Linked DNA regions of Homo sapiens: region 1 is linked to region 2. Evidence: fine-mapped expression QTL. A gene starts in region 2. The other region holds a variant in brackets. All regions are shown on one strand. Distances are from middle to middle.

Region 1 (5,361 bases), 44 kb after region 2:
ACCACCTGGGATTTACCTGTGTGAGGGACACTGGTGGAGTCTGAGGAACCGCCCAGGCCAGACTGGCTCAGGGTCAGAGTCCCTGACTCTGGGGCGCCATGGTCTTCAGTGACGCCCGGGAGGCTGGGTGTGTGTGAGTGTGTGTGTGTGTGTGTGTGTGTGTGTGTGTGCGCGCGCGCGCGCGCGCCGGTACTCGCGTGTTAGTGCGGCACGCCCCGGCTGGCCTGCGGGCCTTAGTTTCCCCCGCTCAGCGCCGCGGCCCGGCCCGCCGCCGCCATGTCGTTGCAGCGCGCTGCAGGAGCAGAAGGGCGAGCTGCGCAAGCGGCTGTCCTACACCACACACAAGCTCGAGAAGCTCGAGACCGAGTTCGACTCCACGCGCCACTACCTGGAGATCGAGCTGCGGCGCGCGCAGGAGGAACTGGAGAAGGTCACGGAGAAGCTGCGCAGGTGAGGGGCGGGGCGAGGGCCGGGGCGGGGCGAGGGCCGGGGCGGGGCGAGGGCCGGGGCGGGGCGAGGGCCGGGGCGGGGCGAGGGCCGGGGCGGGGCGAGGGCCGGGGCGGGGCGAGGGCCGGGGCGGGGCGAGGGCCGGGGCGGGGCGAGGGCCGGGGTGGGGCAGGGCCCGAGGCCCGGAAAGCCGCACGCGGTGCTCCCCTCTCACCCTGGCTGTTGACTCCACTCAGATGGGGAGTCCAGAGGTTCTGGTAGGGGAAGCTCTTCCTCCAAAGTCACACTATGGAGCAGCTGAGCCAGGATTTGAACCCAGCAGATCTCCAGACCCAGACTGGTCCACCCGGGGCCCAGCCATGGTTCCCTGGGTCCTGATGGGAAAAGCTGTGTCTAGCCCGGAGATGAACCAGTTTAGGGACCCTTCCCTTGAGCGCGTACGGGCTAATGAAGTGTCGATCCAGTTGTGCTGGACTCCCTCAAACACCAAACTTTTCTAAAAGCAGTTTTCTTGTGCACATTTAAAATGGATGTTTTTCTGAAATGTAATATGCACTTTCTCATCTTCTTAAACAGAAAATGCAAGAAGCATGCAACCTTTGCTGTTGGCTTGATTTGTTTTAGGTATTTGTAGAGAATCGGCTGGTGTTGCCCCTAGGGAGGACTTGCCATAGGGAGAGGGTTTGTCCCTCTCCGAACAGCCCCAGCTCCTGAGTGTTTTGAATGTCACCCTCCATTCATGTGGAAACCAAGCTTGGGCAGTGCAGTCAGACCTCAGTTAAAATCTGGGCCCTGCCAGTTACTGCTTTAAGTAATTAAAGTTTCACCTCAGTTTCCCTATTGGCAAGACAGGGGCCATAACACGACACATAGGTTGTCTGAGGCTGGACACCATCCCCAAGCCCCCTCCCACCAGCAATGGAATCTCCAAGCACCTGATTCCCACCTGACACTCAGCTCCACTCCTCCTACCCGGCAGAACCGAGTCTTGTTCACTGTGATGTCTCCAGCCTCACCCTGGGGCCCATCACATAGTTAGTGTTAAGTTTCTTCCCTGCTCATTTGCATTTGAACTGTCAACCCCATAACAGGTTTGTAAGAATTGTGGGTCAAATGTGAGTAAACTGGCTCCGCGTGTGGATGGGACAGAGTCTCTTGTGAATAACAAGCCTTCCCTTCCCATCTTCAGGGGGTCCCGGGGTGGAGGGGGAAATACAGTCCTGGGCCCTGGCCTAGGAAAGGCTTCTACAAAAGTTTGCTTTAATGGGATGTTCTCTGCTGTGTGCAGAGGGGCACACATTCCACCAGGGTGAAGCTGGTGGGGTGAGCTCAGGAGGTCCAAATTCAGCCCCACCCTGCTCAGCAGGCTGTGCGGCCATAAGGGTCGTGGGAGGGACAGGCCTTGCATGGCAGTGACCCCCTTGCCTCCTGCACCAGGATTCAGAGCAACTACATGGCACTGCAGAGGATCAACCAGGAGCTGGAGGACAAGCTGTACCGCATGGTGAGGCCGCCACGCAGCGCCCACTCCCCCACCCCACACCTCCTTCCCGGGGGGAGCCACCCAGCTGACACCCCTGGGCCACTCAGGAGCTGGGACACAGGTCTTGCTGGTCCCACCCCTTTCTCCATGGAACATGTGGAGCAGGGTGTGTGCTCTCAGGCTAAGGAAGTACTTGGGTCCAGGGCTGCCCTGTGCTGCCTGAGTGGCGGGTGCGAGCACTCCAGCCTGGGGGTGTGTAAGAGGGGCTGTGGACGGAGGACATACACTGGGAACGGGCCCCCCAGCTCAGCCTGCCAGTCCAAGGACCTGGGCCCAGGAGGATAGGGAGGCCCGAATTCAGGCCCTGGGTGAGCCAGAGGCAGGTTTGAGCCCCAGCTCCGCCTCTCATGGGGACCCCTCTGTGGGGACCCTCACACCACCTGCAGGTGACCTCAGTGGGGTCGCCATTTTCTCTGTGAACACACTGCTGGGACATGTCGAAGAGGGGCAGGGTGTGGGTTTCTGGTGCCACTCCCTCACTAGGATGAAGAGGTTTCCTTTCTTTCTACTTTGGTGACCAGCTCATTTTGGTTTTGAAAGCAACAACCTGCCCACCTTTGTGGTGCT[A/G]TCAGAGACGGGGGGTGGCAGGCCTGGGGGCTGGGCCTGGCTCTGCCTGGGTGCCTGGACACCGGCCCTTTCCTGAGCCTCAGTTTCCCAATCTGTCCAGTGAGGTGGGCTGGGCTCTATGCCAGGCACAAGTCATCTGTCCTCCGTCCCCACTCCCAGCTCCTGAGGCAGGACGCTGTCACCTCTGTGTTGCACATGAGAAACTGAGGCTCAGAGGCAGTGACGTCCCCAAGGCTGTGTGGCTTGGCAGTGTTGGACCCAGGAATTGAACCAGGGTCTGTCTGTGCTCATAAACCCCACACCCTTGGCCCTCTAAGTGTCTTGTCACTCATGGCTACAAGGGACAAACCAGGGGGTGCAATCGAGCGACTGGGTTGGCTCACCAGGAGCCAACCACGGGCCTCCTCCTCCCACTGTCCCACCCCCAGGGCCAGCACTATGAGGAGGAGAAGCGTGCGCTGAGCCACGAGATTGTTGCCCTCAACAGCCATCTGCTAGAAGCCAAGGTGACCATCGACAAGCTGTCAGAGGACAACGTGAGTGCCGCACACACTTGGCCCATGGAAGACTGCCGGTGGGCCTAGGCGAGGGCTTCCCAGGATGCACTGGGAGTCACATTCTGACTCTGAAGGGTCCTGAGCTCAGCTGCTTTGGCCCCAGCCTCAAGGGGCTGGTGCAGGGTACAGGTGGATGGACAGGCTGGTCAGGGCTTTGAGAAGGACCTGCTGCAGTTGGGGAAAGATGGTGCTGTCTCATTGAGGACGCCAAGGGTGTCCTTAAACAGACCCTCTGCTGTAAGGACTTGAGCTAGGGGATGCGGGGCCATATTATCCCATTCAAGGCAAGGCTTCCTGATCCCAAGGTGGGGTCATGGCCACTCAGGACTCCTGCCCTTGGCCAGTCCCAGTGTTGCATCACAGCCGTGTGGCTGCCCATGGGGCCTAATTTCAGGGACCCTGTGAGATGGGCCCAGTTGCCCTCCACAGACCCTGGACAGCTGCCTCTGCATTCACGAATTAGCTTCTACCTTGCCAGACCCTACTAGGCTCCAAGATGATGGTGTGAACAACACAGGCAAAAAAAAAAACAAAAAAAAAAACACCTCTGGCCACGTGGAGTTCACATCTGAGTGGGGCAAACTCTGGGGTATGTTAGAAGTGTGAAATGCTATAGAGAAACAGAAAGCGAAGAACGGTACCAGGGAGTCGCCAGCTGCAGGGCCTGCAGATTTCAAGAGGGTGCTTCTGGAAGGGGCTGCTGTGCCAGGACCTGAGGGAGTGAAGGAGCCAGCCATGCAGACATCCGTGGGAGAAGCATTGCTTCCAGGCAGAAGCAACCGTGGTGTGCAGCTGTACCTGGTTAACTCGGAGGATCCCAAAGGGGCCAAGGAGCGCCCAGCGGGAGGGGGAGCCAGGGTCTGAGGTCAGAAAGACCATAGGAGGCAATGTTGTAGAGGCTCCTCCCAGAAACCTGGGCTTTATTCTGAGTGCAGTGGGGAGCCATGGAGGGTTCTGAAAACAGAGGAGCAACGTGATTGCACGTGCAGCTTCCCAGGGCTCACGTGGCTGCCATGCTGGAAACAGGCTGTAGGGACGAGGACAGGAGCAGGAAGATCAGGAGGAGGCCAGGACCATAGTCCAAAAGATGATGGTGGCTCAGATGACGGTGGAACTGGGCAGAGGGCTGGGATTCTGGTTGTGTTTTGAAAATAGAATCAACAGGACTAACCAAGATTTAGGATGTGGGTTGTTAGAAGAAGAGCTGAGTCCAACCCAGCTACAGGATTCAGAGCCCAAACAAAAGGAGTTGCCTGCCATTTCCTGGCTGGGGACAGCTGGGGAGGGACAGGAGCTGGGTGGGAGATGCACAGGACCCCTTGGAGCGGAGATGTCACCAGGGCAGCAGGAGGCCCGGGTCTGGAGTTGAGCGTGAAGGCCGGCATGCCGGCGGAGACTGCCCAGGCAGCATGCAGATGAGAAGCAGGGAGGCCCCAGGACGGAGTAGGGACCAGCAAGGATGCCTGGGAGGGAGTGGCCAGTAGGCTGGGGGACACCAGGCGAGTATGGTGGCCCAACAACCACTTGAGAAGGGGGCTGCAGTCAATGCCCTGGCCGGCTGGCTTGCCAGCTGCTGAGAGACCAGGTCAGAGGGCCAAGGAGAGGCATTGGGATTTGGGGAACTGGAGGTCGGTGGTGGAGTGGAGCGGTGGTTCCAGACACAGGCCACCCTTCTAAGGAGTGTGGCTCTAACAGGAGGACAGGAGGACATGGGCTCGGGACAGGAGGTGCTTCTTAACGTGACAAGGCCAGGCCCCTTACCTAAGTGGACACTAGTCCTGGGGCCCTCTCTGCAGGGTTGGTGCACATGAGGAAACTAAGGCATGGCCAGCTTGAGTGGTTTCCCAGGTGACCCAGGTGGTGTCTCGCAGACGGAGCCAGAACTCAACCTCGGGACTCCGACTCCAGCAGCCCCGGGCCCTGGGTGGCCAGAGTGCTTGCCTCCACCTGTTCGCTCTGCCAGAGTGTCCCGTGAGCATTTCCTCCCCGAGCCAGCAGCTGCGGCTGCTCAGGAAAGGCTCCCAGCTGTCCCAGAGCTGGCCACCTCAGACATGGACAGCCCAGGGGCTTGGGTACTCAGCCAGGTGCCCCAGGGGCTATGGGCATGGCACCGGCTTCCCAGTGGCAGCCACTCCTGGCTGTGGCTGGTGGGGCTCAGTGGCAGACCTGGGCTGGCTGGGCAGTGCCTGCAGCCCTCTGGTGCCAGGGGCAGCCGGTCGACTGGGGTCATACAAGGGGTCAGTTCTC
Region 2 (5,361 bases):
ATTAGGCTTAGGTTTGGGGTTGGGATTATGGTTAGGATTTGGGCTAGTGCTTGGGGTGTTTTTGGCAGTGTTTAGTGTTAGGGTTAGGGCTGGGTTGGGGTTTGGTTTAATGTTCCTTTTGGGATTTGGTTTTGGGTTGGCGTCTGGGTTAACTTTAGCGTGTGGTGTGGGTTGAGGTTATTGCTTTCTGGCAGGACAGTGTTGGGGTTAGAGTCGGGTTTAGGGTTCATGTTACTGTTCAGGCTAGCATTGGGGTAGGGTTAAAGTTTGCTTTGGTTTTGGGTCCCATTAGAGTTAGGTTTAGCATTTGATATAGGTTGGAATTTGGGTTAATATTGCAGTTGGGGTCATTGTTAGATACACACTTGGGCCAATTCAGGGCCTTCTCACCACCTGTGGAGGGCAGCTGTAGCCCGATTCTGCAGGGGACTCCAGAGTTTCAGTTGGAGCACCTGTTGTTTGTGGGAGAGTGGGAAGATACCTCTCACCTTCCCATTCTCTAGGGCTCATAGTCAGAACCCTTGCTCAATCTGTTCTTGTGGGTGGGGATTGGAAGATGAGGCAGGGAACTGGTCAGCATGGCTAGCTGATGCTGGAGCCCCTGTATGTGGCTGTCTGCGGGTGCCTCACTGTCAATGACTTCCCTGACGTGCTGTCCTTTCTTTTATACTCAGCCACCAGGGCCAGAAGCCTGGCATCACACCAGGCTATTCCTATCTCCCCCACCTCCATCCATCCATGCATTCTTTGGCACATTTAACCATGAGCCCCAGTGTGGTGCCACTTCCTGCCCTGCTCCCTGACCACAGTAGAGGACCACGCATCCCAGCGGGGAGATTGATGTCCACATCAACAGACAGATCAGATAGCTCTGGAACGCAGTAAGAGACACGCAAAAAACAAAATAGGGCAACGAGATTGAGCCATGGGGATGGTGATGTCAAACAGAGTGGTCCGTAGAGGTCTGAATGAGGGCAGGGGCCTGAGGAGAGGGTCCTCCATGGCCCCAGGGCATCACCTCGAAGTCCTGCCACTTTCATCCCTTCTTCCCAACCCGGCTGAAACCTTGCCTCCTCCAGGAAGCCTGCCTGATGCCCCAGGCTCTGCTGCACTGACTGTAGTTTCCCCATCTGCAAAAAGGGGCTAGTACCACTTCCCCTACAGGGGCATTGCAGGGATGCTCCCAGACCCACAACCAATGCCTGCTTTCTCTCCGCCTTCCTAGCTTAAGGGGGCTGGAGTGGGAAGGATAGAAGAGAGGGCAGGGAGGGTGGGGACGGGAGGTGCGTGCAGCATGGGGGAGGGGCTCTCCTGGGGCCTTCCCAGGCAGGCCTGAGCTGAAGCCTGCAAGCTGCTGGAGCTGAAGCAGGAGCCGCCCCCACCCCACCCGCCCCTCCCCCGCCTCCCCAGCCATCTGTGGCGTTGGCAGCAGCAGTGCCAGGGCGGGCGGTGAACATTCTGGCACCATCTGAGCAGGACCAGCCTCTGGGGAAGGGCCGCAGCCCAGGAGGAGGCAATGTGGGCAGAGCCCTGCCTGTACCCCAGGTTCCACATCCCCCATTGGTGTTTGTCCCCTTAGGGACTGGGGAGGGAAGGGACACTGGAGCTGGCAGGCTGGGCCTCACTACCTCTCACAGGATGCCTCCACTGCTGTGTGCTGCCTGAATGGTGTCTGAACCTGAGAGGCCAGAGTGGAGGTCAGGGAGCCTGTCCCTACTCCTGCTGGGGAGACTAAGGCCCCCTTGAGCAAAGAGGCTGGTCCCGTGGTGCACACCAGCGACGGTTTGGGCGAAGTCTGTCCACGCTTCGCCCAAACTGGGAGAGCCCCGCCCTGAGCTGCCGCCTCTCATTTTGTCTTGACTGTGGTGGGGTGCACTTGGAGGCGCCTCCCTCTGTCCATTGGTTACCCAATCATGTCCCTGGGACCTGAGAGGGAGCAGAGACAGGACTTTGCTTGACACGAAGTGGCTCCAGTCAGCTGCTGGTTCTTTTGCTTGTCTCCTTTTTTTCTGGGTTTCCCCTCTTGCCTTGCTATCAGTGCCTTTTCTCAGCACTGACACTGCCTGAATGTAGCAACCTACTCCCCAGATTAAATGAGAGAGCGTAGAAACTGCAAAGCATACAACATACAGCATATAAGGATGGTGGTGATGGCAGCTCAACAGTGGGAACTCAGTGTCCCCAAACTGTACACTTTAAAAGTGGTTAAAATGGTAAATTTTATGTTTTCCATGTTTTCCACAATTAAAAAACAAAAATATACAAGGTACTCATTCGCAGCATCTTCTAATCTGCCATGTACTTGGAAATGATATAAGCATGTGTGAACCATGAGCCCATAGGTCCCGAGGGAGGATATGAGCGAAGCACACGGGCTTTGCCAGCTCTGTTTCCACCACGCAGGACCCTCCCTGGCTGCCAGTGCTCCTCCCCGGGTTCCCACGCTGGCTGCTGCTGGGCTGGCTGGGATGGAAGACCCTCATGTAGCTGGCACCCTCAGGGCTGCCCCTTGCCCGCTCTGGGAGGAGAGAGGAGGGTTCACGCTGCACCTTTACCAGGGTAGGACTGGCCAGCCTGGGCTCTACCGGGCAGGTCGGTGGGATGCTTCAGACTGGAGGGATAGGCAGGGGGCAACACTGGTCCTCCTGAAGCCACCTTCCCTTCCTGAGAGCTCCTTGGGGAGAAGGCAAGCCCTGGAAGCCACCGACTGGGGGCTCGGGCAGAGCAAGGGCAGGGTAAGGGGCAGCTTGGCCAGGAGGCACCCTTGGGAGCCAGGGTTTCCTCATCTGTAAAATGTGACTCTGCGAGGGCAGGAGCTTGGTTTCACTCGCTACTGTACCCCCTGGGGCCTACAGCAGGGCTGGTTGGTACACACTAGGTGTCTAATAAATGTTGAGGGATTGAATGGATGGACCGATGAAAAGGTTGGGCAGGTCATTACTGACAGCCTCTGGGTTTCAAGGGCCCATTCACTCTGTCACTCACCTTCGCGCCCGTGCATTAGTTCTCTCATTTATTCATTCCCCCCGCCCCCCCAGCCCCGCATGCTCTACCGCACTCATTCATTCACGCGCTCAGCCATTCAAGCTGGCGCGGGTTCATTCATTCCCTGCCCCTCTGCCATTCCTCGCCTGGCCCCCGCGCACGCCGCACCCCCGCGCCCCTGCCCGGCCCTGCGCCCACCACTTGCGCCCCGGCCGGGCGCTGCCGGGAGGACGCGCGGGCTCAGCCGCGGCTGCGCGGGGCCGGGGCTGGCGGGGAGCCGGGCTGGGGGCGGGGGGCGGGCGCTCCCTGCGGGAAGCCGGGCGGGGTGGGGGAGCCCCGGCCGCGCCGGCTCCCGGCGCGCTCGGCCTCGGAGGGGAGGGGGCGGCGGTAGCGGCGGCGGCGGTGAGCGGCGCGGCTGCCCTGGGGCCATGTGGACTGGCGGTCGCCGGCCGGGCCGGCTGCGCCGGGCGGTGAGTACCTGCGAGCCGGGAGGGCAGGGCGCGGGCGCGGGCGCGGAGGCGGGGCGGGCGCCACCCACGCCTGGGGCGGTCCCTGCTCAGCGCGGGAGGTGGCCGGCCCCCCGCCCCGCTCCCCTCCGCGCTGCGCCCCCGCCGTGGAGGCTTCACTGGCCCGGGAGGAGCCGGGCCGGGTCTCCTGGGAACTGGGCACTCTCGGGTGGGGCGGGGATGCCCAGCCTCCGCGCGCCGCCGGGAGCGCCCGGGTCCTATCGCGGGGTCCTTGCGCCCTGACACGCGCGCCCCTGCGGCGGAAGGAAAGGAGGGACGGGTGACCAAGGGCGCGGCCGGAGGACTGGGGACCCGCCGCTGTCCCGGGCGGGTGGCGAGGGTGCGGGCAGGCCTGGACCCGCCTGCGTCTGGGGGCAGGGCCAGCCCCTGCTTGGGAGGCCGGAGAAAGGCCCGGGAGCCGGAAGGAGGCTGGACCCGGGGCCGCCTCATTGAGCGTTTGCAGCGCGTGGGCGCGCACGAACCTCGGACACCACCATCCCATTCAGTACCTCGCGGCAGGTACTATCCTCCTGCCCCTTTACAGGCGAGGAAACTGAGGCTCAGGGAGGCCAGGGCCTCGCCCAGAGCGGCTCAGCCGGCGCGCTCACCCTCCCTGAGCCCCAGCACGTTGGATGGGAATTTCTGCCCCAGCGTTTCCGCTTCCTGCTTGGTTTAGAGGTGTTTCCTTCCTCGTCTGTGCCCCACCCCATCCCCAATGTGGTTTCCTCAGGGCAGGAACAGCGTGGGCGACGCGCTGGAGTCTCCTGAGCCGGCAGAATGGGAGCAGAGTGGGCACCCGGGAGCGGGGCCGGATGGATAGGGAGCACTGCACGTGCAAAGTCCGCATGGCCAAGGTCGGCCGCCAGTGCAGACTGGGGGTCCAGGCCCTGGGGGTATGGGTGGGGCGGGGTCTCCACAGCCAGGCTCCGTCGGAGGCCCCAGTGCTCTGGCTCTCTGGAGGCCATGGACAGGTTCTTTTCCTTCTCTGGACCCTAGTTCCTCTGCCTGCCAAGAGCAGCAGAGACCCCCACTACTCCCAGGGCCAGGCTCCCACGAGGACTGTGGGCAGAAGCCCCTAACAAACTGCGGTGTGCAGCCCTGCCAGGCTGGCCTTGGTCTTGCCAGCAGGGGCAACTGGCCGTTGGGGGTGGCTCTGCCTGGCATCTGTGACACGCAGGGCGGGGAGACGGCAGAGAGGGCCCCAGCAGCATCCTGCAAACCCTTAATTTTCCCGACTCTCACTATAATCAGGGCAGCTTGGAAAAGCAAGCACTGTGGCAGATGCGGCTCTGCCCGGGCTCAGCACACGGGCTCTGGGCGATGGGCGGCTGCGCTGCCGCCAAGGGCCCTCCCCAGCTTTTGTCTCATATTTATAGATTCCAAGGCTCCGCGTTCCGTTTGTCGTCAAAACCTGGAGCTGTTCGCACCTGGGAGCTGAGTGGGGAGGGGAGGGCTGCCTAGAACCTCAGCCTGGAGGATGAGTTTTCCATGCGCTGGGGTGGAGTAGGGGGACACCTGTCAGAGCCCAGGCCTGGAGAGAGGAAATGAGCCCTAAGCAATCTGGAAGATCTTCCATCCACTCTCCCAAGACTTGGGCGCAGGGTCTGGCCCACATAGCTGCCATTTATGGAACGCCTGCTATGTACTGGGCCCTGGATCAGCATTTCCACGCATCATCTCCACGGCAACACTTTGAAGGAGCTTCCCTACTCCTGCAGGCACTCCTGATGCTGAAGAGTGGATGGATGGATGAATGGATGGATGGATGGATGGATGGATGGATGGATGGATGGATGGGAGGGAGGGAGGGATGGATGGGAGGGATGGATGGATGGGAGGGAGGGAGGGAGGGATGGATGGATGGGAGGGA

The links. PIP is the estimated chance that this variant, and not a neighbour inherited with it, causes the effect.
Region 1: its variant is fine-mapped to the expression of BEGAIN in whole blood (INTERVAL, PIP above 0.99).

What each region holds. Positions count from the first base shown.
Region 1 is chr14:100,541,590-100,546,950 of GRCh38, reverse strand. BEGAIN (brain enriched guanylate kinase associated) reads left to right here. Exons shown (of 7, transcript NM_001385089.1): 3 at 289-450; 4 at 1,885-1,951; 5 at 2,986-3,093. It overlaps LOC124903382 (a long non-coding RNA gene), which reads right to left. Exons shown (of 2, transcript XR_007064334.1): 2 at 4,008-5,361. Among named protein-coding and RNA genes, the nearest start is that of BEGAIN, 43 kb to the left of the region's middle. RefSeq lists an enhancer at 1-22. The variant A/G (reference allele first, on the strand shown) is at 2,558.
Region 2 is chr14:100,585,343-100,590,703 of GRCh38, reverse strand. BEGAIN (brain enriched guanylate kinase associated) reads left to right here and starts at 3,287. Exons shown (of 7, transcript NM_001385089.1): 1 at 3,287-3,455. The coding sequence starts at 3,414.